Linked DNA regions of Homo sapiens. The protein of the gene in region 4 purifies or fractionates together with the protein of the main gene of each other region. This does not show direct contact. Each region holds a gene or a part of one and is shown on either strand. Other genes may lie near its edges. The genes, in order: CEP44, CCDC6, DCAF4 and MAFK.

Evidence for each region.
Region 1: the proteins of MAFK (region 4) and CEP44 purify together in Homo sapiens (affinity purification with mass spectrometry; one large-scale study listed by BioGRID and IntAct). This does not show direct contact.
Region 2: the proteins of MAFK (region 4) and CCDC6 purify together in Homo sapiens (affinity purification with mass spectrometry; one large-scale study listed by BioGRID and IntAct). This does not show direct contact.
Region 3: the proteins of MAFK (region 4) and DCAF4 purify together in Homo sapiens (co-immunoprecipitation; one large-scale study listed by IntAct). This does not show direct contact.

What each region holds. Positions count from the first base shown.
Region 1 is NC_000004.12:174,304,411-174,312,923, reverse strand, and holds part of CEP44 (centrosomal protein of 44 kDa), read right to left. Parts: intron 4,236-8,513; coding exon 4,065-4,235; intron 3,075-4,064; coding exon 2,868-3,074; intron 2,142-2,867; coding exon 2,066-2,141; intron 1-2,065. UniProt on the Homo sapiens protein: Centriole-enriched microtubule-binding protein involved in centriole biogenesis. In collaboration with CEP295 and POC1B, is required for the centriole-to-centrosome conversion by ensuring the formation of bona fide centriole wall.
Region 2 is NC_000010.11:59,812,557-59,816,056, forward strand, and holds part of CCDC6 (coiled-coil domain-containing protein 6), read right to left. Parts: intron 2,200-3,500; coding exon 2,096-2,199; intron 240-2,095; coding exon 79-239; intron 1-78.
Region 3 is NC_000014.9:72,951,894-72,960,406, reverse strand, and holds the end of DCAF4 (DDB1- and CUL4-associated factor 4), read right to left. Parts: intron 6,247-8,513; coding exon of another isoform or gene 6,244-6,246; coding exon 6,145-6,243; intron 6,022-6,144; coding exon 5,924-6,021; intron 4,885-5,923; coding exon 4,711-4,884; intron 4,022-4,710; coding exon 3,907-4,021; intron 1,796-3,906; coding exon 1,602-1,795; 3' UTR 704-1,601; downstream 1-703. UniProt on the Homo sapiens protein: May function as a substrate receptor for CUL4-DDB1 E3 ubiquitin-protein ligase complex.
Region 4 is NC_000007.14:1,534,689-1,543,201, reverse strand, and holds the end of MAFK (transcription factor MafK), read right to left. Parts: exon of another isoform or gene 8,322-8,513; intron 5,756-8,321; exon of another isoform or gene 4,745-5,755; intron 4,054-4,744; 5' UTR 4,010-4,053; coding exon 3,974-4,009; intron 3,262-3,973; coding exon 2,827-3,261; 3' UTR 159-2,826; downstream 1-158. UniProt on the Homo sapiens protein: Since they lack a putative transactivation domain, the small Mafs behave as transcriptional repressors when they dimerize among themselves.

The DNA.
Region 1 (8,513 bases), on a different chromosome or scaffold from region 4:
CATGGAACACTGTATTCCTGATAAAGGCAAAACAAATCTGGAACCTCACAAAAACTATTCCTGATTTAATATGATCCTAAACCCAGAGTAGTAAATTATTGCTCTCTGCATTCAAATGAAATCAAACCCTATTTCCAAGTAGCATGTATAAGGTATAATGTGTAAGTCTTTATAAACTTGAGTCTTTTAATTAATCTAGATCAGATCATAAACTCTATGAGACCAGGTATTCAACCTAATCATAATCTGTAATCCATTTCAGATAGAGGCCTGTTAATTACTTTCAGTCCTGGCACAGTTGTTGAAATTTAGCTATGTGAACCCGGACATGTTAACTCACACCTGTAATCCCAGTACTTTGAGAAGCAGAGATGGGAGGATTGCTTGAGCCCAGGAGTTCAAGACCAGCCTGAGCAACATAGCAAGACCTTGTTTTACTAAAAACAGTATGTAAATAAATAAAAAATTATCCAGGTGTGGTGGCACGTACCTGTAGTCCCAGCTACTCAGGAGGCTGAGAAAGGAGGATCACTTTAAGCCAAGGAGTTAACATCTAGGAGACTGCAGTGAGCTATGATTGCACCACTGCACTCCAGCCTGAGCAGCAGAGTAAGACCACACTTATCTCAAAAAAATTAAAAAATTAAAAAAAAAAAACTTAGCCATGTGTTTTCTAAATAGGTTAAAGGTATATTCTATAATCATGTCATTAAAAAAAAATAAGCCTGAGCATGCAAAATCAAACTTGAAAAAGGCAATGTTTTGCAAATCACAAGCATTCAATATTCTTTCAGTGAATAAATATTTAAACTCTACTATATGCAAATACTGGTGATAAAAGCACCGACATACTTTCTGTGTGCTAGACAGGCAGACCATAAGATAAAGTTTTTGCTCTCAAGGATCTTATACTCAAGCATTAACATTTGTTGAATAGATATATGAATGGATAAATAAAACAGGCAACATTTTACCAAATCTGAAATCTGCAGCCTATAATAAATTTAGTTGCCTTAAATAGCATCTCAAATAATTATACTTAACAAGCTAATCACTGAAATTGTTCTTTGTGCAATGATATTGATATGTGCTCCAAATATGCAGCAGTCAAGAAAAAACTTCAGATCAGTTGCCTGGATTCAAATTTGATCTACAATTCAATAACTGTGTGACCTTTGCTGTAGTTACTTAATTTTGCTGTACTTCAGTTTCCTCAACTGTAAAATATAAAAATAGTACTTATCTTGCAATGGTTACTTCAAGAATTAAATGAGTTAATATAGTAGTTAGAATCGTGCCAGGCACACTGTTAGTGCTAGAATATATATTATTTTATTGTTACACATATAGTAGAGCTGAAAGATTTTATAACGTTAACAATCCACAGATATTAAAAATTTAACTTAACGATGAATTCTCAATTGGACAAAACATCTCTTCTATAGCTATGATTTAATCATAGATATGGCACAAAATTTAGATCTTTTAAAAATACATAACAATCAAAACAAAGCTGTCACTGAAAAACAGAAATCTTACCCTTGCTGCTCAGTCACACTAAGCAAAATATCAGTAGCCTAGTAAAGTGACCAGGAAAAGACCTATCCTAATATCAGATCTTTCCCATTTTATCATTATCAGTGAACTATTCACATGGAAGAAGTTTGCAATACTTTATAGATACTGACAAATGTGTTTTCTTCTCTTACATATTATTATTTACATATGAGAAAGCTACTACCTACCTAAGCTTAAATTTAAAAACTTGGAGGCCAACATTAATATCCTAGAGCACTTGATTATTCTCGAATGATTAAAACAGTAAAATATCTCTAAAAATTTTCAATTTTGTACACTGAAATTTATTCACCCACTATGTTATGTGAAATAAGTAGGCTGGTTAGTTAAGCAATTCTTGGCTTTAGTAGTCTGTAGGTTCATTATGTTCTTTGTTCTAGGAGCTTTGCAATTTCTAAACAATAAAGCTTAAGAATATTAAAATTACTATAACAATCATTTTTCTGAAAACTCATCATACCAATTCTCATAGTATTTACAAACTTACGAGGATTCAGAAGGTCCATGTCACTACAAGAAGCGTAGTCTTCACTAACTTCATTAAACTCTATAAATTCATCATTCTGGAATAACACAGTTAAATATTTAGAATGAAATAAAAAGAAAAACCCTCTCATTTTATATTCTTAATGCTGAGCATAAAATATAAAGGTAGCATGATAAATGTTTAAATATTTTTAATTTTTTATTAAAGCAATACATATACTGCATATTCCTACATATAAGAAATGTTTTAAATATGGAAGCAGATAGCAAGCTACTTGACTTCACCTTCTAGGAAGGAAAGACAGACCAGAAATTGAAATCCTGAGTAAAAAAAAACAAATTTCTCAGATTTGATAAGGCAATGGTAAATCTGGTAACTATTCTATGAAATTCACAATATGATTGAAGTAAATGAGTGAAAAAAAGATGGGAAGAGTTACCTATATCTTCTGTATCTTTTCTACCCTATGAAAATAGGTTATTTGTACTATTAAAAGATATAAAATAATTTTAAGCTTTTCATATCTATCATATTCTTACCTCATTTTAAATTCTTCAAGCATTATTAACATCTGTAAAAGCTCAACTGACAAGTTTTTCAGATTATCTTATTCAATGAAGAGAGAAACAACAGCCACAACAACATACAGGCTATATTTAAACAGGACTTCATTCTAACTAGACATTTTCTCATTATTCAAATATTCTCATATTTAGCATTTCCAAAAAAATACACATATAACAATCAAAAAAAAACTTTGTTATATCTGAGATATTTTATAAATGTTAAAGGAGGAAAATACCTTTTTAGACAAAAGCATTTCTGTTTCAAGAAGAGTGACACGACTAAGAAGATTAGTCCAGGTGTTTTCATCTACCATCACTTTTCCTTTCATTTTTTGTTCCAAACAGTCTAACCTTTTCTCTATCGAAGTCAGTTTCTTAAGATTTTCTTGGCATTCAGCAAGCATAGTTTGTAGTGCAGTAATCTCAGGATTAACATTTACATCCTAAAAAGGTTAGAGAGATTAAAAATAAAATTAAACAAACTGAAATTTCTTTAAAATTAATGTATTCTCACTTCCACAGCGTTATCTCAACAGTTAGGAGAGACCGTCCTGCTTGAGAGTTAAGAGAGCTATCTCTGGATGGAGACTACTTGGCCACTTAAACCAGTTCTGAGATTTATGATCTTGATGCCTCCATTTCCTCATTAAAAAAAAAGAGATAAGAGCAGTATCTATTTCATATGATTCTTCTGATAATGAGTTAATTTGCATGATTCTCTTAATACCAGCTAGTAAAATAAAACTATTATTAACTAGCTTCTTGAAACAACGCTTAGCACAAAGCTAAGAGGAAATGACCAAAAACAACACTTAGTGCATTGAGATTGTTCGGTTTGCCATATAACAGGAAGTAGGTCCAATGGCCATCTGGTAGTTTTTGTAAGTGCCAACTGTATATTGATATACTGAGATATATAGAAATCACAAGACATAGAAACACAGAAAAAGAAGTCTTAGCAGAAACAGTAGAGATCAGACATATTGGGGTCTGTGGCAATTAAGAGTAATAGAAATGGTTTTTTAAGAGAGACAGAAAATAACAGCAGGGACCCAGAAAGGAAAATGAATAGGCAATAAAGTGCCAATCTTTTCCATTCACCAATAAAGAAAATAGGTGGTAGAGAACCTCCACTATGCAAAGTAGCATATCGCTATGTCTCACTAAATTGTAGATTCCTTAAAGCCAAGTACCATATCTTATTCTACTTTGCATCACCCCAACACTTAGCCCAGCACCCTACACATATGCAGCAAATATTTGTTGAATTATTTTAGTAAGACTTATTGACACTTCAGTAATTGTAACATAGATAAAATGTCATGATTAATAATTCAAAAGGCTAGAAATATTCCAAAGTTTAGAGGCTGAAATAATTACACATATTTAAGTAAAAAATACTGGCATCTATTTAAAAAGTCCAAAGTTGTTACCTGTTGCTCAGCCTTGATTTCAGGAACCTTTACTTCAGGCATCTTTATTTCAGTAGCATTTAAGTCAGACACATCAACTGCTTCATTAACATCTGTTATTGGACTTAATGTATCCTCAGAAATGTCAACATTATCTTCATTATACAAGTGACGAATCACCACAGCTTTCTTCTGCATAGAGAAAAATATGTAAGAAACACTTCAATGTTTTCCTCCCACAATTATTTATTTTTTAACTTTTAAGTTCAGGGGTCCATGTGCAGGTTTGTTACACAAGTAAATGTGTGCCATGGGGGTTTGTTGTGCAGATTATTTCATCACCCAGGTATTAAGCCTAGTACCCATTGGTTATTTTTCCTGAACCTCCTCCTACCCTCCACCCTCTGAAAGGCTCCAATGTGTTTTGTTTCCCTCTATGTGTCCATGTGATCTCATCATTTAGCTCCCACTTACAAGTGAGAACAAGTGGTATTTGGTTTTCTGTTTCTGCATTAATATGCTAAGGATAAGGGCCTCCAGCTCCATCCATGTCTCTGCAAAGGACATGATCCCATTATTTTTTACGGCTACAGAGTATTCCATAGTGTGTATGTACCACATCTTCTTTATCTGCTCTATCATTGATGGGCATTTAGGTTGATTCCATGTCTTTGCTATTGTATTTAGCTTGATTCCATGTCTTTGCTATTGTGAATAGTGCTGCAATGAACATATGCATGCATCTTTACAACAGAACAATTTATATTCCCTTAAGTATATACCAAGTAACGGGACTGCTGGGTCAAATGGTCTTTAGGTCTTTGAGGAATTGCCACACTGTCTTCCACGGTGGTTGAACTAACTTACACTCCCACCAACAGTGTATAAATGTTCCTTTTCTTCCACAAACTCACGAGCATCTGTTATTTTTAGACTTTTTAATAATAGTCATTCTGAGAAGCGTGACATGGTATCTCATTGTGGTTATGATTTGCATTTTTCTAATGATCAGTGATGTTGAGTTTTTTTCATGTGATTATTGGCTGCATGTATACCTTCTCTTCAGAAGTAGATGTTCATATCCTTTGTCCACTTTTTAATTAGGTTGTTTTTTTCTTGTAAATTTGTTTAAGTTCTTTATGGATGCTAGATATTAGGCCTTTGTCAGATACAAGTTTGCAAAAATTTTCTCCCACTCCGGAGGGTGTCTGTTTACTTTGCTGATAGTTTCTTTTGCTGTGTAGAAGCTCTTTAGTTCAATTAGATCCCATTTATCAACTTTTGCTTTTGTTGGAATTGCCTTTGGCGTCTTCGTCATGAAATCATTGCCGACACCTATGTCCTGAATGGTACTGCCTAGGTTGTCTTCCAGGGTTTTTATAGTTTTGGGTTTTACATTTAAGTCTCTAATCCATCTTGAGTTGATTTTTGTGTATGGTGTAAGGAAAGGGTCTAGTTTCAATCTTCTGCATATGGCTACCCAGTTATCAAAGCACCATTTACTGACTAGGGAATCCTTTCCCCATTGCTTGTTTTCATCAGGTTTGTTGAAGATCTGATAGTTGCAGGTGTGTGGTCTTATTTCTGGGTTCTCTATTCTCTTCCATTGGTCTATGTGTCTGTTCTGGTACTAGTACCATGATGTTTTGGTTACTGTAGCCCTGTAGTATAGTTTGAAGTTGGGTAGCATGATCCCTCCAGCTTTGTTCTTTCTCCTTAGGATTGCCTTGGCTATTTGGGTCTTTTTTGGTTTCATATAAATTTTAAAGTAGTTTTCTTTAGTTCTCTGAAGACTGTCAATGGTAGTTTAATGGGAGTAGCATTGAATCTATAAATTGCTTTGGGCAGTACAGTCATTTTAACAATATTGATTCTTCCTATCCATGAGCATGGAATGTTTTTCCATTTGTTTGTGTCATCTCTGATTTCTTTGAGCAATGGTTTATAGTTTTGCTTGTAGAGATCTTTTGCCTCCCTTGTTAGCTAGATTCCTAGGTATTTTATTCTTTTTGTGGCAATTTTGAATGGGAGTTTGTTTGTGATTTGGTTCTCAGCTTGACTGTTGTTGGTAGATAAGATTGCTAGCAATTTTTGCACATTGATTTTGTATCTCAAGACTTTGCTGAAGTTGCTTATCAGCTTAAGAAGCTTTTGGGCTGAGAAGATCCTCCTACAATTATTTTAAACATACAGCAATTTTGCAAAAGGAACACCAATCTTTAAAAATTAAAAAAAGTTTAAATTATCACATATAATATATATATCAAAATATTACCATTACTAACATTACCAATAATTTATGTGTGATGATAAAATTGGGGTTATGACTTTTAAAACAATTCTTACATTTTAGGACAAGCGCTGAAATATTTATTAAATTATGTCTGAGATTTGATTTAAAATAAAGACAAAACAAGATTAGCAAAGAGTTGATAAATTGCTGAAACTGGATGATGGGTATGTTTGTAAATGTTTGAAATGTTCCATAATAAAAAGTTATTTTTAAAAAAGATTGCCAAATAATTCACTTATAAATAATCAAAAACTGGCTCTATGAGTAGGGCTCATTACAATTTTTCTGTTAAACAAACTGCAATTTATTAGACCTTCAGCTAACAATTCAAACCTAATAATGACAACGAAGAAGTCCTGACAAAAAAAGCATTAGGTCACGGTATGCATTTACCTAGAAATCCTCTACCTGCTTCCTATTCTACAGTTTGCATACACACTATAAAAACATATGTGACTCAGAAGCGCAAATAGGCATACTATATAAGGCACTGGGATAGGAGACAATTTGCTTTAATATTGACTCAACTTTTGCTTGTAAACAAAGAAATGTACTTGTAGACTCTTTTCTAAATCTGAGAACTTTTAATACTTATTCAAATTTCTGATAAAGATCTGGTATAAATTTTAATAGATAACAAAGAAAACTTTGCTTTAAGAAAATTAAAAATAAGTCTAATGTTTTGAAGTTTACATTTTTCTTGGCTAGGACAATTTACACTGTCCCCTCAACTCTCATACTGAAATAGAACATTGAAAAGCACATTATATCAATAAATAATTAATAAGTGCTCACAGTGTTCCTAATCCTGTGCTAAGCAAAATGAAGGTACAAAAAATCAGTATAAGAAAATCCCTGTTCATATATGTTCCTTCTAGTTGGGGAAGAATACAAGATATAAGTCATTTAACAGTTAGAAAATCATAAATAAAACTAACAAGAGTTAGATGAGTTAGAGATGCAAGTGTACAAAAACTACATGCACTTATTCAAAAATGGCGGCTTTGTATCATTCTTTATATTGTCTTCATTACCTAGAGCAAAACAGGTACATTAAAAAGAAGTGGCATAAGAACATTTTCTTATAATAAAATTTCACTTTTTTAAGGTATAAAGGAATAAACATATTTTTTTGAGATGGAGTCTCGCTCTGTCAGCCAGCCTGGACTGCAGTAGTACAATCTCGGCTCACTGGAACCTCTGCCTCCAGGGTTCAAGCGATTCTCCTGCCTCAGTCTCTCAAGTAGCTGGGGTTACAGGCACCAGCTACCACGCCTAGCTAATTTTTGTATTTTTAGTAGAAATGGGGTTTCGCCATGCTGGTCAGGCTGGTCTCAAACTCCTGACTTTAGGTGATCCACCTGCCTTGGCCTCCCAAAGTGCTGGGATTACAGGCATGAGCTACTGTGCTAGACCCAAGAATAAATTTTTAAAATAGATTCTGTTTACATAACTCATGTATTTTGGATTAGGGCAGAAATAATACTCTAGATTATACTTCAGTCAGAAAGTATTCACATCCTTTACTTAATTACACCATTGATAATTCATCTGATATTCTATCATTCAATCAGAGTCTTCTCCAGCTGGAAGACAGCTGAAAATATATTAATAAATAATATTTTAGCTTAAGTCTCCCTTAGTGATAGAAACACTGTAGCTCTAAGTGCATTAGATTCAATTTGCCACAGCTGCTCAAAGCAGATAATGGCAGAAAAATTATCTTTCAAGAAAGAGAAAATATTCAAAATATTAACTGAAAACCAGATTCTACGTGTAGGGACTACCAATTATTGGATAATTCATACTTGGTTACAGAAATATAATGTACATAAATGAATCATTATAACCTATCACTACTGCTAATGTAGGCTCTTCATATGTTCCCATGTTTTAGGAAGACCAGAACACAATTAAGAGCAAATGTAGATAACTGCATAAGATAATCTTCCTAAATCACTACTCTTCTGTTTAGGAAATCCGGCAGAATTAGAAATTAGAAATATAAAGAGAACACGTATTTAATTTTATATTTCTATCCTATTGTTATAACTTCAGGCATACTGCCCAAAAATATATGGCATGCACTGTTAAAAATCAATGAACTCCAATATCTAACTAGAATGTTCATCAGGTGCCAATCAGAAAAGTGAAAACTGTATATTGGATTAATTAGA
Region 2 (3,500 bases), on a different chromosome or scaffold from region 4:
AAATGTTGGTAATACCCTATATTTGGTAAAGTTATTAATTCTACAGGCATGAAACTAGTGAAACCAGAGGCTACGTACGCTGTAACTGAGCAGCTCTCAGTTGCTTCTTCAGCCGTTCCACTTCATTCTTTAAAAACCTGATGTGACGCATCATATTTTCTGGAGAATCAATCTCCATGGAGATATCTCTAGGCGATGGTGGAGCAGAGACGGGCTGGTCTAATTTTTCCTGCAGGATTCTTCATTGAAAAGAAAAATTCCAACAATGACTAACAGTTTTCCTTGAAAAGACAAAACAACATACTAGCTGGCAGGTTTGTTTTAAAAGCAAACTCCTGTTTACTGCCAGAATTCACAGGGTTGCTTAATTCCTCTGCCCATTTTACATCAAACTTCTGCCCTTACGTGGTGTCTCACTTCAAAGGGCAGAGCTGATTCTAATCTCCCTTTTTCCTTTTAAATGACTATTAAATGTTTTAAATTAAACAATACTGAAAAGTCTTTATTTAACAACAGGATCTGATAATTATGCCTGGAATACAGTATGCACTTAGAAATACCTGCTGACTCAATGTTCAACTTCTTGGGTTTAGTGCATGAAGATGCTGAGGAAATTCCATTTTCTTACGGCTTTTGATTGAAGCTTCTAAGCTACTATGAATCTCCTTGGAGGGTAAAGTAACACAGAGACTCAACTTCTAAAATTCCCTCCTGCAAAACTAATTGCAAGGGCATGGCAAACTGGACTAGCGGCCCTTTGCTTTTGGCCACAGCAAAGGTAAAAAGTTAAAAACAAAACCAAAATTGTTAGGTTAATAATTAGTAGTGCCACCTTCTTTACCAATTATTTTTATGTTGAAGGATATAAAATACTGATATTCAATAGCTCTGACCTACAAAATGCAAACTTCCATACTGTTCAACCCAATAATTTGGCACTAATACATGTAAAACCTCCAACTGCCTTTTACAAAGTCTTCCTTTGGCAGCAGATCTCTAAATCCCTTTCCATAGCTGCTGGGGTTTTTGTTTTGTTTTTGCTTTGTACCTTTGAGTTTGTCCAGGAGCAAACTGAGTTACCTCCATCCAGGTCTACCCTTGAGAAAACTAGTGTGTTAAATATTATAATGGTCCCTGCATTTATTACATAAAATGACTTTTCGTAATTCAACTTATTAGTACTGCTACAATAATACCTATCAGTAAAGCATAGTGGATATGATTATAACAAGTATTTCTTATAGATATAGCTCTAATTTTCACTTTTCTTAAAGCTATGTGGTATGCCTGTATTTTGCAAATGTAGACATGAACTCAAAACAATTACAAATATGCATCCAAACCAAATACTTAAGGAGGAAGGGCTCTGGGTAGCAAACAAAAGATCTTGGTGAAGTAGATTAATGACCATTTTTAAGAAACTCACTTTTTACACCCGTACACACATTCCACATACAGAATCTTCTTCCCATTCTTACAAGCCCTGCCTCACACACTCCAAAGTACTCAGTGCTTGAAAATAAGGGCTTAACTATCTTGCACAAAGAGGTTTAAGAAATGTTTGCTGTTGAGTGACATTCCACTTCCAAGTACATACATTTTATATAAAGAATCCTAGCCTTAAGTATGTAAAGGTATTTCTTTACAGTAGGTTTTAAAACAATTTTATTATTAAAATCTCAGGCTTCCTAAAGAAGTAAATTCCAGAGATGTATAAATAATAGTACGCAGTATACCCTATGTACTTTACAAAACAACTGAGGAAGCCAGTTCAATAAGGTGGAAAGTTGAAATTGCAACCATTCTTGAAAATACTTTAAAGGTGAACAATAGCAGCATGACTAATTCTCTCATAGCCTTGTAACACCAAATGAAAAGAAATTCTACTGGGACAGTATGATAGCAAAGAATAAAGAGGTGCCCAACATGGGAATAGTTCAGAAGGCTTTCAACATTTTTTTTCCTTTGGCCAATTAAAATGATGTGCATCACCAAAGAATTAAGGTGTCCTACTGCTATTCCTCAGTCACACCCAGAGCAGCAACACACACACACACACACACACACCCATACTGAACAGCAAGACTAAACAAACCGCTTTTCAGCTTCAAGCTTATCCATCCTTTTCCAGAGGCGATTAACTAGTGCTTCTTGTTCTTGTTCCAATGTATTTTCAAGGTCAATCTTCTCCCGTCTCAACTAAAGGAAGGAAAAAAGTGTTACCAAAGTGTCAGGCCACTTATACTTTGTTAATACATTTTTTGATTGAACAATTAGGACCCCTTTTCTTGGAGAATACTGCAAACATGTGGCCAATTTTCTGGCACAAACATATTAAGTGCATCTAGTTCTTAAACTTTGAAAAAAACTAGATAGGTTCATTCTTGGATGTTAATGCTTAATTGTTGTCTGGTACATGAAATGCATTGCTTGTTTCAGCATTTATTCAAGGCAAGTGGAAAGTCCTCCTTAGAGAGGTCTTTAGGGGAGTTCGGTGTACTAGTCATATCAGGACTTTTCTGGGCTTGTCCCTTACAGTTCTGGGCTTACAGTTATTCTTCCGGGCTTGTCCCTTACAGTAAGTCAGAAAGGTTATATTACTATTCATATAAATAACTCTTAAAAGCTCCCAAACACTCTACATACTGGCTAATGGAGATAAATAAACATGTACTAAGATATAAAAACACGCACAAAATATGATAAACACCAAATCCACAATACTGGTTACTCTAGGTTACTCTAAGGATTTAGGGAAGGAAGAAAATTTGATTTGGGGGAGGCTTTGCAGTTGCGGAGGGAACCCCAACAGTGTTCTATTTCAATGAAGCAAACATGGGAAAATTCAATTAATCAATATTGAGCAATATGTAATAAATACTGAGAACAATGACTGGATAATGGGGGCATAGCAGTGAATCAAGGAGTCAGGAATTTCTGCCCTCATGGATCTTCCTTTTAGTGGGGGTCAAGACAGTAAATGAAACAATTATATACTTGTGAAACAGTATGAAACAGATATGTAGAAAAAGAGGGCTGGTAAGAGAGACTGAAAGTGCAAGAGGTTTCATAGCAATGAGTAGAGGACATGTATTCTATCATTCTCCGTACTTGACATATTAAATAATTAAAAATTTTTTCTTAATGCAAAGAGCCTATGCTACTGCTTCCATGTTATTTCTTCAACCAGTGGCAATTCACCTTTCAATGGTTGAGTCAACAAATTATTCTTGATTGCACAAAGATGTTAATAGATTCCACATTTCCTTAGTGGGTCACAGAGGCAAGCTCCTCATCCAAAGATCCCGTGTGTATACATAAGGCAGAACCAAAAACATGAATAAAATGTAGTCTTTTAAAGCAATCAAACATCAGAAAATAATATCCAAAGTGCGGTTTTACTTTTACAGCCAAATGACATTCCCCTTTCTGAAACTCTTCGTAGCTTAGTCTTAAGAAGCAACAATCTCAACCTCCCGAGATGGTTAGTACTACCAACA
Region 3 (8,513 bases), on a different chromosome or scaffold from region 4:
AGGCTGAGGCGGGCAGATCACCTGAGGTCAGGAGTTTGAGGCCAGCCTGACCAACATGTAGAAACCCCCATCTCTACTAAAAATACAAAATTAGCCAGGCGTGGTGGCACGCGCCTATAATCCAACCTACTCGGGAGGCTGAGGCAGGAGAATCACTAGAACCCAGGAGGTGGAGGGTGCGGTGAGAGCGCCATTGCACTCCAGCCTGGGCAACAAGTATAAAACACCATCTCAAAAAAAAAAAAAAAATTTGGTTCTTTATAGAATATGCTGTATTAGTCAGGGTACTGGCAGGAAACATTCAAGTGGGTAACTGCGAGTCTACCTAGTGAGGCATTCTGGGCCAGCAACAGTGAGGTGTGATGACCAGCTGTAGGTCTGAAGGGACAAATGAAGAGTTGCTGGAACCCGGCTCTCTCTGAGCGCTTTCCAATAGAAGTGGTGGGTTTTGGTTACAGCCACCCACAGCCCAACCAGAAGGGAGCCGGGGAACCACTCCCTCTCCTCTTGCCCTCTGTGTTCTACTGCTGCTTCCCACTGGCTGAACCTACCTAGCTGCTGGGAGCCAGGGAACCCTGACCTAGTCCAGAGGTGAGTCTTTTGGGCATGCACAGAGCAGGGTGGAGATGGACAGATGATGAGGGCAGAGTGGGTCTGGAGGGGCCCAGGGAAGCTCTCCAGGAAGGCTATGAAAGCTGGTCCCAGCAGCCCAAGCTCATGATCTCCTAAGTCATTCACAGAAGTGCATGTCACACCATGATTCTTCTCTTGGTTTTATTGTTTGGTAGAAAAACAGGCTCTTTAACACTGAATAAACATCTCACGAACTGTCGCTCCTAGATTACAAAAAGTCAAAACCAATTTCCTTTGACGCCGGGCCCTTGAATCTGACATTCAAGTCACCGTAATAGAAACCAGAGCTGCTGAACCTTACATTCTGGAAGGTGCTTGAACAAAGGCATGTTAAGGACCGTTTAAAACTTCTAGCATGTAAGAAGATCCATCTTTCCTTCCAACGCCTTTGGATAATAACAGCAGAATCCCGGAGATCTGCTGCTGAGTTTGAGAAGGCCAAGTTTAAGGATTCCAAACTCCAGCCTTCAATATTTCTGCAGAAACTTAGAGAAGTAACCTCCCCGTCCTCTCCGCTGGCTTCCCCAAGTACAGATGCAGGATGCAGGTCTTTCTTCCTGCTACCCAGGCACCGAGGACTCAAACCATCTCACCGTCTCATCACTGGGCTTCTTCAATGGGCTCTTGGAGGAAGAAGCTTTTCGTTTTTGCCAATCTTCAGTCCTTAGAAAAGTCCTTTTTGTTAAGAAAAGGCAGGGAGGGTTAACTAAGTTCTAAGAATTCAATAAGAAAAGGAAAGAGGTACCTTTTATGAAAAGGACTTCCAAGCTCTCTCAGCCAGCAATTTAACTCAAATAACTTTCCTGAGCATCTCCACACGGAACATTCAGCACTTCTCTCCTAGCAGCCAGAGGATGGGATCTGTGTACACTGAGTGTCACTTAAAACACCCTCATTAGATGCAGTAAAAAGTTACGCTTTACTCCCGTAAGTCAAATCCACATGGCTCTGGGCTGTGCCCTGCAGAATTAGCTGTAGGAGTAACAGTAAAGGTCCTGCCCGACAGCCATGAGCAGCCCCGGCGCGCCCCGGGAGCCCCCCAGCCGCGACGAGAAGGCCACACTGGGAATGTCGGCCTTGGAGGCAGGGTACGGGGAGGGTATGGTTCTCAGTAGGCGGGCATCGTGGAGGCTCCAGATTCTCGTGTAGCAGTCCTGGCCCACTAGGAAAGAGGAGAGACACATGGCAGGCTAGTGAGAGAATGCAAAGGAAAACTTACCTACATGTGGACATGGCTTCCCAAGATTCCTCAGGGCTGTGATTTCATGTGAGCCAAAACACAAACTCATTAACGGACAGTATTTCTACGGATAACCCAAGTCGCCCTGTTGTGCTAGAACAATGACAAGATGCCCTGGTTGGCTGTGTGATGCCATGAATGGCTCGGAGACATCCTGGCTAATGTCTGGGTATTCTGCTGCTCTTGATGTCACGGAACGTTCAAGTGCGAGTGTGGCCCACCTGGTCTAGGTGACATGCAACTGATTTCCCCCATTTTTTAGGGACAGGGTCTTGCTCTGTCGCCCGGGCTGGAGTGCAGTGGTGTGATCAGGGCTCACTGCAGCCTTGAACTCCTGGGCCCAAGCCATCCTTCTGCCTCAGCCTCCTGAGTTAACTGGGACTACAAGTGTGTGCCGCCATGCCTAATTTTTTTTTTTTTTGAGATAGGGTCTTGCTGTGTTGCCCCAGCTGGTCTTAAACTCCTGGCCTCAAGCTCCCTAAGTGCTGGAATTATAGCTACCACACCTGGCCTGATCTTTTCATGTTATAGTAAAAGATCTGTCAAAGTCATTACATCCTGGGGATGGGCTAGGTTGACAACTCTCCCCACAGCTCTTTCTGGTTTAATGCTTCAGTTCCTAGGACCGGTTTAAGTCTTCAGGGCTCCAGTTCTGAGGACTGTGACACACAACAGCATGGGTTACAGCAGCCCAGAAACATGATATACACTACTGGAGACCTTCAGCAGGAGAAGAGGACAGGCCTTGGGCAGTCATGGATTTCACATTTGTGATTCTGATCACTTGTGTGGCTCTAAGACCAGAAGTGCTATCTTGGCTGAAGCTGAATCCCGGCTGCAGTTTATTACTGCAGCTGGTAACTACCTGCATCTGCCTCTCAGCAAGGCTGAGCTCTCTCTATCATCCAGCTCACAAGAGCTCTTCTGTGATAAAAACAGGTGAAAAATCGACTTAAAAAGGAGGCGAAGTCCTGGTGTTGATGAGAATAGTAAATAAGTCTATGAATGTCCTAACAAAGTAATGCTTCCTAGCCACAAAAATGTTCCATGGGGTATAAGCCCTTTCTATAGGAATACCAGTAGAGGTGACAATTCTTGAAGACTGAGAACACATTCTGCAGTGTCAGCAGCTACTATTTCAGTGTGAAAGCATTGAGCCTGCACACTGTCTGATTACGCTATAGCCACCATCATCTGTAATCAACTGGTAACTCCCTTCCAGGGGGCTTAGTGGCCAGATAGCTGCTCCTAATCTGCAGATCATGGAGCCACAGGGATGGTAGTAAAGGGGCCACAAATCTTTTTTATTTATTTATTTATTTTGAGACGGAGTCTCGCTCTGTTGCCAGGCTGGAGTGCAGTGGCGTGATATCGGCTCACTGCAACCTCCGACTTCCTGGTCCAAGCAATTCTCCTGCTTCTGACTTCCGAGTAGCTGAGAGATTACAGGCAGGTGCCACCATGCCCAGTTAATTTTTGTATTTTAGTAGAGATGGGGTTTCACCATGTTGGCCAGGATGGTCTCAATCTCCTGACCTCGTGATCCACCCTCCTTGGCCTCCCAAAGTGTTGGGATTACGGGCGTGAGCCACCGCGCCGGGCCGGGGCCAAGAATCTTTACAATGACCATAACTTCTTTTCTCAGCATCCTCTGGTGGAAATGTGAGTAGAGACAACAGGGAGCCCAAGTTTTTGGATAAGATAGTTGCGTGGTGGAATAATGCTGGCCTGATGAAATCCACTCAAACTCCAAACCCAGGCTCCCCAGGACCTCCCCACCTGCCTGTTTCTGAAGTGACGTTTGCCCACTGACATGGGATGAGGCTGTCCACCTGGTGGACATTTATTTACACTCCTGATTACTAATATAATCTAATTCTACTTCCCTCCTAGTCTCCCCACCCAGCTGTCCACACTCCCCTTGATTCAGTTCTGTTTTGGGGTAACTTTTCCCTCTGCTGCTGAAGTTGCTGGGATCGCCCCTGAGAGACAGTATTTGATGGGGTGGAACTTCCCCTTCCTTCCTCAAGTACCTGCCACCAGGATTCCTTCTTCCTCGTGCACATGCAGGGGCAGGTAGGCGTACTCATTCACGTGGCCTTCGTACTGCCTTACGCACTTCGTGGTCCTCAGGTCCCACAGCTTGATCTGTGGAAAAAGCACCAGGGGCCATCAGGGAGGGGCCAGGGGGTACCATGGTGGTCCCCAAGTGCAAAGCCAGGAAGGCAAGGTGGTCTCCAGTGGCCTGTGCAGGTCATGAAGATCTCCATCTCGAATTCTTGAGCCTTGTTGTTCATCAAAAGCATGTAACCAGGCCGGGCACGGTGGCTCATGCCTGTAATCCCAGCACTATGGGAGGCCAAGGTGGGCAGATCATGAGGTCAGGAGTTCGAGACCAGCCTGACCAACATGGTGAAACCCCATCTCTACTAAAAATACAAAAATTAGCCGGGCGCAGTGGCGGGTACCTGTAATCCCAGCTACTCAGGAGGCTGAGGCAGGAGAATCGCTTGAACCTGAGAGACAGAGGTTGCAGTAAGCCAAGATAGTACCACTGCACTCCAGCCCGGGCGACAGAGCAAGACTCCATCTCAAAAAAAAAAAAAAAAAAAAAAAAAAGGACATAACCAGAGAATCCTTTTCACTTTTGTTTACGTCAGATTAGGCTCATATGGTCAACGAAGCAGTCCCCATGCAGGGCCTACAAATCACTTGGTCTTCAGCGAAATTCCCCTGCCTGGGGTCTTGGTGTGAGGACCTCTTCAGCAGAACCCTTTCACCTGGCAGGGCACTGGGCCACGAGACCCTGTGGCCTGAGAAAGTCCATGATCCCCTACCTTTCCAGCCATGTCTGAAGCCATCAGGTATTGCTCATCTTGGAGGATCCGCACAGAGGTCACTGCTGAATCATGAAACAGGCGGGTGGCCTTCCATCCCTTGCCTTGATTTCCACAACGCAGATCAATGGCAAAGATTTCCCCAGAGCGGCAGCCATTAAACAGCAGAGGAGCCTGTGGAAAGAGGGACTGCTCAGTGCCTGGCTATCATGACATCCCTCTGAGGCTGGGCAGGGCAGGTCCTCCTGATACAACCCCTCTTCCAGCCTCTGGGTCAGACGGTGTGATTAGACACGTGCTGGTCAGGGTTTGGGTCTCAATGGAGTTGGAAGGGAGGATGATTCCTTGTTAGTGGCTAGAAGAACCAGACCCCATGTGTCCTCCTCATGGGTAGCACGGAGGTCCTAGGAGCTGCCCCCCACCCCCCTGCACTGTCCCGTTTGGCCTTTCTCTCTGAAGTCCCAGAGATAGCATTCCATCTCCACCAAAAGCAGGTTAGTGGGTTCATTCACTTTTAAGGGAAGACGGCATTTTCTAGAGAAAAGTCTGTGAAATATAGTAATGACCACAATTTTTTTTTTTTTTTGAGACAGAGTCTTGCTCTGTTGCCCAGGCTGGAGTGCAGTGGTGTGATCTTGGCTCACTGCAACCTCCGCCTCCCGGGTTCAGGCAATTCTCCTCAGTCTCTCGAGCAGCTGGGATTACAGGCGCCCAGCACTATGCCTGGCTAACTTTCGTATTTTTAGTAGAGAAGGGGTTTCACCATCTTGGCTAGGCTGGTTTTGAACTCCTGACCTTGTGATCCACCCATCTTGGCCTCCCAAAGTGTTGGGATTACAGCCATTCATTAGCCACTGTACCTGGCCTGATTTTTTAAACATATAAAATATATAACCTGGGAGCTGTGAAGAATTGGTGTTTGGCTTATACATTTTAAAAATGGTTTGTCCTACTGGGTAAATCCAAGTACCCAAGAACTGCTCACAATACCTTTCCATGAGAGGTTGTGTAGAGCAACTCAGGCCAGCCTTTCTGGATCAACCAACTTTCACTCGGCTCAGACACCCTTACAAAGGAACCCACTGATCCTTTCTGATGCTCTTTCTCCCCTGTCAAAGAGTACTAGATGGCACACAGAGGAGTCCAATTTCAATCTGGCCAAATTTCTACATGGGGCAAACTTTTATATTCTGCCTGTCCCAATCCAACCAACCATGAGAGCAAACTGCTGGGCCAAGACATCACTGTTGGTCCCAAAGGACTGCCGGTGTCCCGTCACCACGTTGGTCAACAGGACCCGCCGAGACAAGCCTGGCGGAGACAGAGATGGGCTGGTAAGATTATGTCACATGTAGTCTGGGGAGAGGGACAACTACATGGGGTTTTAAGGCCTGTTAAGGCCTCTTCTCTGGGCACCTGGGGAGCCAGGCTCACCTGTACTGAAGCAGTTATTTGCTTGGATATTCAGGGACCAGGCACAGGACCAGGCACCAGGGATCCGGAAACTGCAGAGCATGCCAGGCCGGTCTATTCCTGCTAAGGGGATAGGAGAATGTAAAGTGTGGCTGCCTTCTAGGCAGGCCAGGGACCACTGGGTTCGGAAAACATCCAAATATGCCCATAGCTGCTCAGAGGGTCTATACCTTTGGCCCCATTCTGGGTTTTGTGGTTGCAAGAGAGACTCAGCTGGGATGCCTGGCTCACAAGTGGTTATTCCGAAAATGCATCTTTGTTAACGTTCCCAGTAGTCGTGTTTACAGTACGAATAGTACTGATATCAGGGAGGTAGTATACTGTTGGAGGTAAGGTGGCTCCGATCCTCGATCACCTACCAGCTATGTGATCTCAGGCAAGTGTGTGTGTATATACACACACACACACACACACACACACACACACACACACACACACACAAATAAATAAATAAATAAACTATATATATATATATATATATATATATATATTTTTTTTTTTTTTTTTTTTTTTTAAGACAGGGTCTTGTTCTTTTGCCCAGTCTGGAGTGCAGTGGCGTGATCATGGCTCAATGCATCCTCAACCTCCCAGGCTCAAGGAATCCTCCCATCTCAGCCTCCCAAGTAGCTGGGATCACAGGTGTGAGCCACCACACATGGCTAATTATTTATTTTTTGTAGAGATTGGAGTCTTGCTATGTTGCTCAGGCTGGTCTTGAACTCCTGGGCTCAAACGATTATCCTGCCTTGGCCTCCCAAAGTGTTGAGATTACAGGCATGAGCCACTGTGCTTCGAAAAAATATTTTTTAAAATAAACTTTTGCATTGATAGAACGTACAGATTGTAAGGATACAGTTCAGTGAGTTATCACAAACTAAATATAGCCATGTACCCACCACCCAGGTTAAGAAATAAAACAATCCATGCCAGGCGTGGTGGCTCACGCCTGTAATCCCAGCACTTTAGGAGGCCGAAGCGGGTGGATCACCTGAGGTCGGGAGTTCGAGACCAGCCTGACCAACATGGAGAATCCCATCTCTACTAAAAATACAAAAATCAGCCGGGTGTGGTGGTACATGCCTGTAATCCTGGCTACTTGGGAGGCTGAGGCAGGAGAATCGCTTGAGCCCCAGAGGCGGAGGTTGCGGTGAACTGAGATCGTGTCATTGCACTCCAGCCTGGGCAACAAGAGTGAAACTCCATCTCAAAAAAAAAAAAAAAAAAAAAAAAAGGCCGGGCATTGTGGCTCACACCTGTAATCCCAGCACTTTGGGAGGCCGAGGCAGGTGGATCACGAGGTCAGGAGTTCGAGACCAGCCTAACCAACATGGTGAAATCCCGTCTCTACTAAAAATACAAAAATTAGCCGGGCGTGGTGGTGTGCGCCTGTGATCTCAGCTACTTGGGAGGCTGAGGCAGGAGCATTGCTTGAACCTGGGAGGCGGAGGTTGTGGTGAGCTGAGATCGTGCCATTGCACTCCAGCCTGGGCAATAAGAGCAAAACTCCGTCTCAAAAAAAAAAAAAAAAAAAAGACAAGACAAGACATAAAACAATCCAGTACCCCAGAGGCCTCCCTCACATCCCTTTCCCAATTACTACCTCCCCAAAGGGTACTGTGAGCCTGACCTCCAACACTAAAAATTACTTTTGTAAGACAAATTCTGAAACTGTCTGCCTCAGTTTCCTTATCTGTAAAATGGTGGTAAGACACACTCCTGCCTCATAAGCTTGCTGTGCAATGAAATACCAGGCACTGGGCTAAATGTGCATGATCTCACCTAATTCTCCACGGATGTGGACTGAGAAGGCCCTGTCCACTTTAGAGAGGTTCAACATTCCATTCAAGTTGGCAAGGGGCAGAGCTGGGATTCGTGCCAGGTCTGCCTGAAGCCCACACTCTTAAGAGGCCTCTCACCCTGGTCTTATTGATCCTAATTTTCTGATAGACTGAAATGTAATATCCAGAATGCTGTCAGGAAGGAGGAGTCAAATTGCCTTAACGTAGGCAGACTGTTAAGTATCCCTGATAGCACCTGAGGTGCTTTGGACCTTCAGAGGTGTTTTCTGAATGATGTGCACGGGCGTCCGAATCTGTTCTGAGCTCACGCTGGTTTACATGCGTGTTAAGTCTGCTCTGGCTGCTGAAATGACTGAAATGGCCCAAGATGGGTAAAAAGGGGCAGATGCTGTAAAAAAAACACATGCTTCTGGTACTAACCCTGGGACAGGCTTAGGGAATCCTCCCACAGTGCCTCTGCAGCGGCCCCATACTTCTCTCTAAGCCACCCCCACACAGCTCTCGGGAGACAGAGGACAGATTTCTTTAAAG
Region 4 (8,513 bases):
CACGGTCACGGCCCAGCAGTCCGGGAAAGCCACTTACACGTAGTGCCCGGATCCTGACCCCGGTGAGGGACAGGCAGGGTCCCCTGGGATTGGGGGGGGGGTGTGGTTCTTGGCCCAAGAAAGCCCCAGCTGAAAGCACCAGCTACGCAACGAAAGGGTCTGAAACCAGAAAATTCTTTATTGCAAAGGTACAAAAGCAGTCACAGCAGCAGGACGCACGGCAATAAATTAGGTGGTGGCCGCAGGGACGGGGCAGGGCGGCGGCGGCCAGACACGGGCCCACATGTGATCTGTTTTCAATAATTTATATCATGATAAAAAGCAGCACAAAAAATAAATAATGAAATGGAACTGCCAAGTAGCACAGAAGCCAGGGTGAGGCGGTGTGGCGGCGTGGCGGCATAGGGGGCCGGGGTCCCCACGCCCTGGAAACGCAAAGACCTGGATCTCTTTGGGAAGCCGGAGGCACGGAGACAGAAAACAAACCCACGTGACAAAGAGTCCCTCGTCTTTTTCTTAAATAAAAAAATCCATATATTAAATCATGACAATGAAATTTCAACAATCTGAAAAGAAAAGCAGAACACACCGTGCTTCCCCGGCCCAGCTCTGGGCGGTGACAGCGGCTCCGTCCACCCTGGGGACCAGGGAGTCCCTTCTCCAGCAAAGCACTGCAGGCCAAGGGCAGGTAGAAGCCCACGGCCCACAAGACGTGGACACCAAGAACCCCAAGACGGGACAGAACCGGCCACCCGCTGCGGCCTGTCCTGCGGGGCCCAGCTGCCTGGTACAGTCCGTGGGGAGATGAAGGGGGACGGCGGGCAGCCCGGGCCTCCGCTTTGCTCCCAACTCCCACCTGTGCCCGTGCCCCCGGCTCTGCTCTGATAGATTTACAGTATCAAACTGGAAAAGAAAGATTGTTACGAAAAATCTGTAGATAAACTGTGAATATAATTTTATATCTCTATATATTTTCTGTTTCTCTCTTTAAATATCCCCCTGGTCCTTATGACATCCAATATGGATTACCTACCACGGCCACGGGGGCAACGGCTGTTTGGGAACACGCAGGCCTTTGCTCTGTAGGGACCCAGTGGTCCTGGCGGGCCTGCAGCTTCCCACTCAACTTCTAACAGTAGACACAGAACCAAGTCGCAGCCCCGGGGCTGTCTGTCCTCTGCCCTCCCAGCGTGGCTGGCACCCGCCTGGGCTCTGTAGCTGGTGGGGGCTGTTACTGGGTGGGCAGGGGCAGCCGAGAAGGAGCCAGGGCCCCAGGCACCACCTTGCAGGTCTTATGTGGCGGCCCCCGGCCGGCGGCTCACATTCCGCCAGCTCCCCCAGGCAGGGGCTCCGCAACCCCCGCGGCTCTCGCTGCAGAGACCCCAGTCACAGGAGGGACCCTCAAGGCGGCTCTCCAGGAAAAGGAAGCCCAAGGTGGAGTGCCAAGCCCACTGGTGCCTCAGTGCTCTTGGAAGGAGGAGCAGGCAAAGGCTCCGGGTGAGGACTGAGTGCTGAGGCCAGCCACACCTGCAGCCCGTGGCTGTGCTCCTGGGGGTGTGCGCGCAGGAGCCACGTCCACGAAGCTCTCCTGGACTGGTGCCTGCTGCCTCCCCACCCGCCGCGCCCTCTGGAGTGCCAGGCTCACTCCTGAGCTCTTCTACAAGCCAGCTGCATCCTGGTCCTGCCCCTCAAGGCTTTCCACCTGCTCTCGCACACGGCTCCCGCCTCCTCCCACCACTCCACGCAACGTCCTCCTCCTTCCACCTCCACATCCATGTCCACCAACATCCCCCAGGCTGCACCCCCTCTCCCTAGACTGCAGCAGCCCTTCCCCTCGCCAGGCCCCCAAAAGACCTCCTCGTTCCCCCTGCACTGACCACAGTTGGTGAGAAGTAGCTCCAGGACACACAGCCTGAGTCCTGCTCACCGTCAAATGATGGGGCGCTCCTGCCTGTGTCCGCTGAGATCCGGGACGGCCTGTGGGGTCGGTGTCTGGGGGGCCGGATCCCGTGGGCAGGGGCTTCTGCGCTGTGCTGCACGACCTCCTCGGGTCACCAGAGCACAGGGGAGACCTCACGACGTGTGAGCCACTCTCTCTGCCATGTGTGCCCACAGGCCCTCCCCCAGTGAACACCAGCAAGCTGCACCCCCTCAGCCCTGCTGCTTTGATGGCAGGCGTGCGTGCACACACACAGACACCACCCCACGCAGGCGACCTCCCACACCGTGCCCACTCACGCAGGCCCCTGCTAAGGCAGACGCGGATCACGGGCACTGCAACGGGACAGCTGGAAGGACGGAGCTGCCGACACACCATCCATGCTCCTCCCCGGGGACTGCGGAGTCGGTCAGGGCAGTGAGGGGCTCCCGCACCGGCTGGGAGGCCGTGGCAGGACAGGTGTCGAAGGCTGCTTACAGCAGGAGTGGAAAACAAGCCCCATGCTAGACCTGACCACAGGGGCCTGACTCCTGGGGCCGTGTCTTCCGGCAGCCCCCACAGAGGACGCGGAACTTCCCGAGGGCCTTTCCATTATATGTCCCGACTCCCACGGGTGCAAGATACCAATTCCCACACACAGACACATCCTGCGGGGAGCAGGTGGCGGGCGTGAGTGTGTCTGTGGACCGGCGTGCAGCTCTGGGCCCACGGGAGCCCACTCTTCACCCTGCAATACAGTCTCTTCCTGGTGTGAGCTGCCTGCGCCCGAGGGGCCTGCGCTTGGACTCGGATGTCGAGAGTCTGCATCCCAGTGACAGGTACGAGGGGTGTGCCCCCACCCGCCTGCCCGCCGCCCGCCGCCCGCCACCCCCCGCCCCCGGCCGGCACTAGGATGCAGCCGAGAAGGGCACGGAGGTGGAGGAGAGCTCGGTGGACTTGACGATGGTGATGACGCTGGTGGTGGCCACCTTGGAGGGCGCCACAGGTCCCCGGGCCACGGTGCGCGCGAAGGTCTGCAGCGCCTCGTACTTGGAGCGCAGGGCGTCCAGCTCCAGCCGCATGCTGCTGTTCTCACGCGCCAGCTTCTCCACCTCCTGCTGCAGCTCCACGCGCTGCCGCTCCAGCTCCTCCTTCTGCGTCACCCGCTTGATGCGGCAGCTGGCCGCGTAGCCGCGGTTCTTGAGTGTGCGCCGACGCTGCTTCAGGCGGGTCACCTCCTCCTTGGTGAGACCCCGCAGGTGCTGGTTCAGCTCCCGCACCGACATGGACACCAGCTCATCATCGCTGAGCACCGGGGCGTTCTCGCCCGCCTCCTTCTTGACCTGGGGGGCCACAGTGCGGGGTCAGCGGCGGGAGAACGTGGGGTGTCTGCCTGGGACCGACACTGGGGTGGCCAGGAACCCAGCGGTGCCCCTGCACGCCTGCGCTCTCAGGGCTGGCCTTCGCCATCCGCACCAGGGACCACAGGACACTGTGCACGCAGGCAGCCCATGTGACAGCTGTGGCCCCACAGGACCCTTTCTGAACGGGAAAAGCCAGTGGTGACATCGGTCACTCCTGGTTACCGACAGCCTCAGAGCCCATGAGGACCCAGAGTGCATGGGTCCTGCTGCTGGGACTGAGCCGGCCCACAGGCACACGCCATTGTGGAGGCGGCAAGCGCCAGGCACAGGTGGGCTCGGGCCTTGGGAGCTGGAGCATCGCGTTCACCAGAGGCCACGCTGGCCACGCTGCCCACGCCTGGAGCCAGGGGATGAGCTCATGCAGTAGCGCCCGGCGGACACACAGCCCAGGCGGGAAGGCAGCAGACCCTGCCACGCCCTCAGCCTGGGAGTCATCGCCTGGAACCACAGTCCCCGATCCTGACTCCACCTCTCCTGTGAACATCCCTCGGCCACAGCAGCCCCCCTCCTCCTGGCAACAGGGAGGCCTCCATCACAGGCTCAGGACGGCCCTGGGATAGCAGGGGCTGTCGGGCCGGGGGCCTTTCCCACGCCTGTGCTTGAGACGGGGCCTGCTTGGAACCAGCCTTACCTTTAATGCCTTATTCGGTTTGGGATTAGTCGTCATAACCCGGGCACGGTCACCAGGACAGAGCTCCCTGGAACTCGTAGCTGGAAAACATGGACAAGCAGAGAAGCCAGCACAGGTCAGGGCCGGCAGCGCCGGACAGGGTGCCCACCTCCCATGCAGGGATGCTTCTCAGCCCGGGGTGGACAGTCACAGCACCATGAAAACAAGACGGGGCACCATCCGGGCCCAGCCCGTCCTGAGGGGCTTCCCAGGGGGTGAGGCATCCTGGCCCGGCCTCTGTCCCTGCCTGAGGGTTCAGGGAAAGGTCTGGCTGCACCTCACACTCTAGCACACTCCACAGAGCGGCTGGGACCCCACCCCAGGGCCTGGCAGCCAGGTGCGGCCCCCTGCTGCCCTGCAGACCTGGGCTGCAGCCGCCGGCACTGTGGGGTGACCAGCAGGCGCCGGCAGTGGCTGCTTCCTGTTCTGACTCTCCCTGAGGTCAGAGAAGACGTCTGCACCTGCACAGCACAAGGTGCCCCGTACCGAGGACCAAAGTGACTGGTGGCAAAACCTCCCTCCCTCAAGACAGCTGTGCCGGCCCCGAGGAGTGTGGGGCCCCGCTGGACAGCGACCCTACACTGGCAAAGGCTCCGGTGCTCCGGACCCAGCCTGGATCCCCGAGAGGGGGCCTCTGGGGAGCCCCTGACATCGCCATCCCCCACGGTGGGCCTGGGTGGAGGCCCAGCCGCCCTCCCGCCCCGCCCTCCCCACAGGCCACGGGACACCTACCACGGCCCTGGCCGCTGCGGCTGTGACATCACCACCTCCACCTAAGCTGCCCCCGAGCGAGGACCCTGCGGCCCAAGGGGGTGTGGGGTTCCTGAGGGGCGGCAGGTCCGGGGGCCGCAGCCAGAGACCAGGGAGGTGGGGGAGCCGCCGCCCTGCCGAGCATTTGACCGTCTGGCGGGAGTCGTCCCCGCCGCCGCCCCCGCCGTCCTCACGTCTGCATTGTGTCACACATTCTAATCATTCATGAAAAACCCAGCCAAAGCATCCCCGGCATGAGCCCTCCGATAGTTGCCATGGCGACCTTGGGACCGAGCCAGCCCCCACGGTTGTCATGGAAACCGAGAAGCCCAAACGCGATCCTGACTTCAGGTCAGGTTGCACAGACATCACGAGGCCGGCAGGCAGTCAACAAACCCATTTGCACCCGGCGGCCGGGACGGGCGGGCAGAAGGCGCCGGGCAGCTCGCGGGACAGGGGTTCACAGCACCCACTCCCATACCCCAAATACCAGACACAGGTTCCCACAGGAACATCAGAGCAGCACACGGCGGTGGGGGGTGTCCTTGGTCAGCACCTCCACTGGACATGGGCATCATGGGGGCGGGTGACCGCATCCCGTCCTCCCTGCCAGCCCAGGACCCTCCCCACACCCTGGGCCAGGGAGCCCTCGGGCCCAAATCCCTCCACCCTCCAGCCCTGCCTCCGATGGGGGCCCCACCCCCGCAACCCACAAACCCCCACAACAAGAGGGCCGCACAGGTGAGACAGGGTCCTGCGCCAGGCTGCCGAGTCCGCTGCCCCTGCCAAGGCCAGCTGATCTCAGGGCGCTGACGTAGATGGCACAGGATGGCACCAGCCGGTCCCGGGGACGGCCAGGTGGGCTCCAGGCTCCTTCGCACCACGTCCTGGGGTGAGGGTGACAGTGGAGAGGCTGGGGCCCAGCTGCCTCCGCCACCGTGGGGACCTGCAAATGCCGGCGGCTGGGAGCACCATGAGAAACTTTTCCATGTCAGAGGGAGGGGCCGCGGGCACCGCTTCCAGCTCCACTGCGAGCACGTCAGTGCACAGGCCGGCCACGACATAGCTATGCGGTGAGTCACCAGATGTTTACAGAGCCGCGCGCATTCCCACACACCCGGGCCTCCCACCCAGCAAGGACCCGCTCCTGGGCCCCCGGGCCCACTGCCCGCCGTGGCAGCACAGCCGGGCGGAAAAGGAAGGTCCGGGGGACAGGACCGTCTGGCCAGACCCACGGTGACGTGTGGGGCTCGGCCAGATGCCAGGGGCAGAGTTCAGCGTGGGGATCTTTCCACTAAAAAGATGCCTCCGCGATGCCCTGTGACACTGCGGAGGCACACGGTAGCCGGGGGCGCCCCAGGAGGGGTGGCTGACTACTTCCAGGAGGTCAAGGTTGCCAGGGCTACTGAAGCACGCCTGTGCCCCGCTCCAACCCCAGTACTTCGAGGCACACCTGCACTGGGGCCCTCTGAAGAATGAGGACCTGGCGGACGCAGGGCTCCCAGGCGGCCCCCACGCTGTGCTCGCAAGCCTGCCCCCCACCTCCTTGGGCAGGTCACGACTCTGCTCTGCCGAGGAAGCCTGGACCAGCCACGCGCCTGGAGAGACGACGCAGCGGGACGGCCCAGCCAAGCAGCAAAGCTTCTCTCAGGAACCCAGCACGGGATGGGATGGTGCTGGCGCCTCCCTCTCCCCACCATGCACAGAATAAATCCAAGTAGCCTTAACCTAATGTCGCTTTAAACATCAGAGGCAAGAAAGATGACAGCTTGCTTTTGGAAGGACATTCAGAGAAGAGTTTTGTATGCACAAAAAAAGTTTGTAAAGCAACTGATCTAAAAATGACGACTGCCCTAAATGGGGTTTTGTGAACTGTCCGACCTCACATGGCCTCCAGGGCCGCCAGAGCACATGTAGAAAGCGCTCCCACCCCAGGGCCAGAGACGCAGCCTTAGGGTGTCATCCAGGGGGAAAGCGTGCCTGGGGTCGCAGAGACGCCCGTGCACTACCCCGGGCCCAAGGCAGGGGCTACTGCATTAGCACCTGGTCAGCACTGCAGCCAAGCTCCCCTCCAGCAGCCCCCGAGGAACGACGTCCTCGCATTGTGTCTTACGCCCAGCAGCTAACAAAACACCAGCATCGCCACGCACAAGCACCCGACACCCCGAGCTCCTCTGAGTTTCGGTGGTCACCAGAGAAGTGCAGTGTTCAGCGCCACAGCGGGGGCCTGGGTGGGCGGGTCTGAGTTTCCGCTGTGGGGCCCCAGCAGCCGACGTAAGTAAGGGTGCAGCGCTCACGCCCCACGTCCCGGGAGCAGCGCCGGGCAGCAAAGTTCTCCGGCACCACCTATAACTTGGAACAGCTCTCAGGTAACTGGTTTTCGGATGGAAGAGGCAGGGTTTTCAACCCAAGGCCAGACACCTCGACGTGACGCAGAACTAAACAAGGCTCAGCGGGGGCATCACTTCCTCTCAAGGAAAAGGAACTGCCAGCAGCCTCAGACAGAGGCAATTCCTGCGGCTGCAGCTGGGGATGAGTGACGGAGCCAGGACGCCGGGCGCCCCTTTCCAGGATCCAGACTGAGGGCCTGGGCTCCATAAAGCGCAGGGCAGGGCGGCTCCGCCCAGGAAGGCACCTTGCAGAGGGTGAGGATCAGAGCCCTGGGCTCCCCCCGGCAGGGCAGGCAGCCCAGGGTCAGTCGTCCAGAACTGTGCTTTCAGGAGCAGGTGATCCCCAGGCAGCCACCTCAGCTTCTGGAGGATCATGTTTTCCCTTTTAATTTTCATTTTAGAGACAAGGTGTCACTCTGTCACCCAGGCTGGAGTGCAGTGGTGAAATCACAGCTCACTGCAGACCTCCTGAGCTCAAGCGATCCTCCTGCCTCAGCCTCCCGAGCAGCTGGGACTACGGGTGGGCACCCCCACACCCAGAGAATTTTAAACTTTTTTGTAGAGACAGGGTCTCACCATGTTGCCTAGGCTGGTCTCGAGCTCCTGGACTCAAGTGATCTTCCTGCCTCAGTCTCCCAAAGTGCTGGGATTACAGGTATGAGCCACCATGCCCGGCCATTTTTAACTTTTTAAGTCCCAGCAAATACTCACTGGTCACCCATGGGCCTGACCCTGCTCAGTGGGGGGCTGGCAGCCTTGGCACCTCTTGCTGTGCTGGCACAAGCTGAGAAGGACCTGCTTTGGGGTCCAGGAGGGAACATTTTCTCCACCAAGTTGGGACTGGGCACAGTGGCTCTTGCCTGTAATAGCAACGCCTCCGGAGGCCGAATGCTCGAGCCCAGTAGTTTCAGGCCAGCCTGGGCAACATAACAAGGCCCCATCTCTACAAAAAAAAAAAAAAAAAGAATTTTAAATAGCCAGTTGTGATGGCACATATGTGCCTATGGTCCCGGCTACTCGGGAGGCTGAGGTGGGAGGATTGCTTGAGCCTCGAAGTCGAGATTGCAGTGAGCTGTGATCACACCACTGCACTCCAGCAGCCTGAGTGACAGGGCAAGACCTTATCTTTTAGGAAAAAAAAAAAGAGAGAGTGCAAAAGTGAGTTGAGCAGCTGACGGCTGGATGACCCCTCTGAACGGTCCCGGCTGTGGATGCCCATAGAGAAACGGGGATTTCAGCTTTGGGGCTCTGATTCTTCCCAGATGAGAGGACGCATCGGGGCTGCCGCTCGCTCTACGAGGCCAGCATGGGGGCTCTGGATGGGTCACTTGTTCTTGCCCAAGGGGTGAATGATGACACAG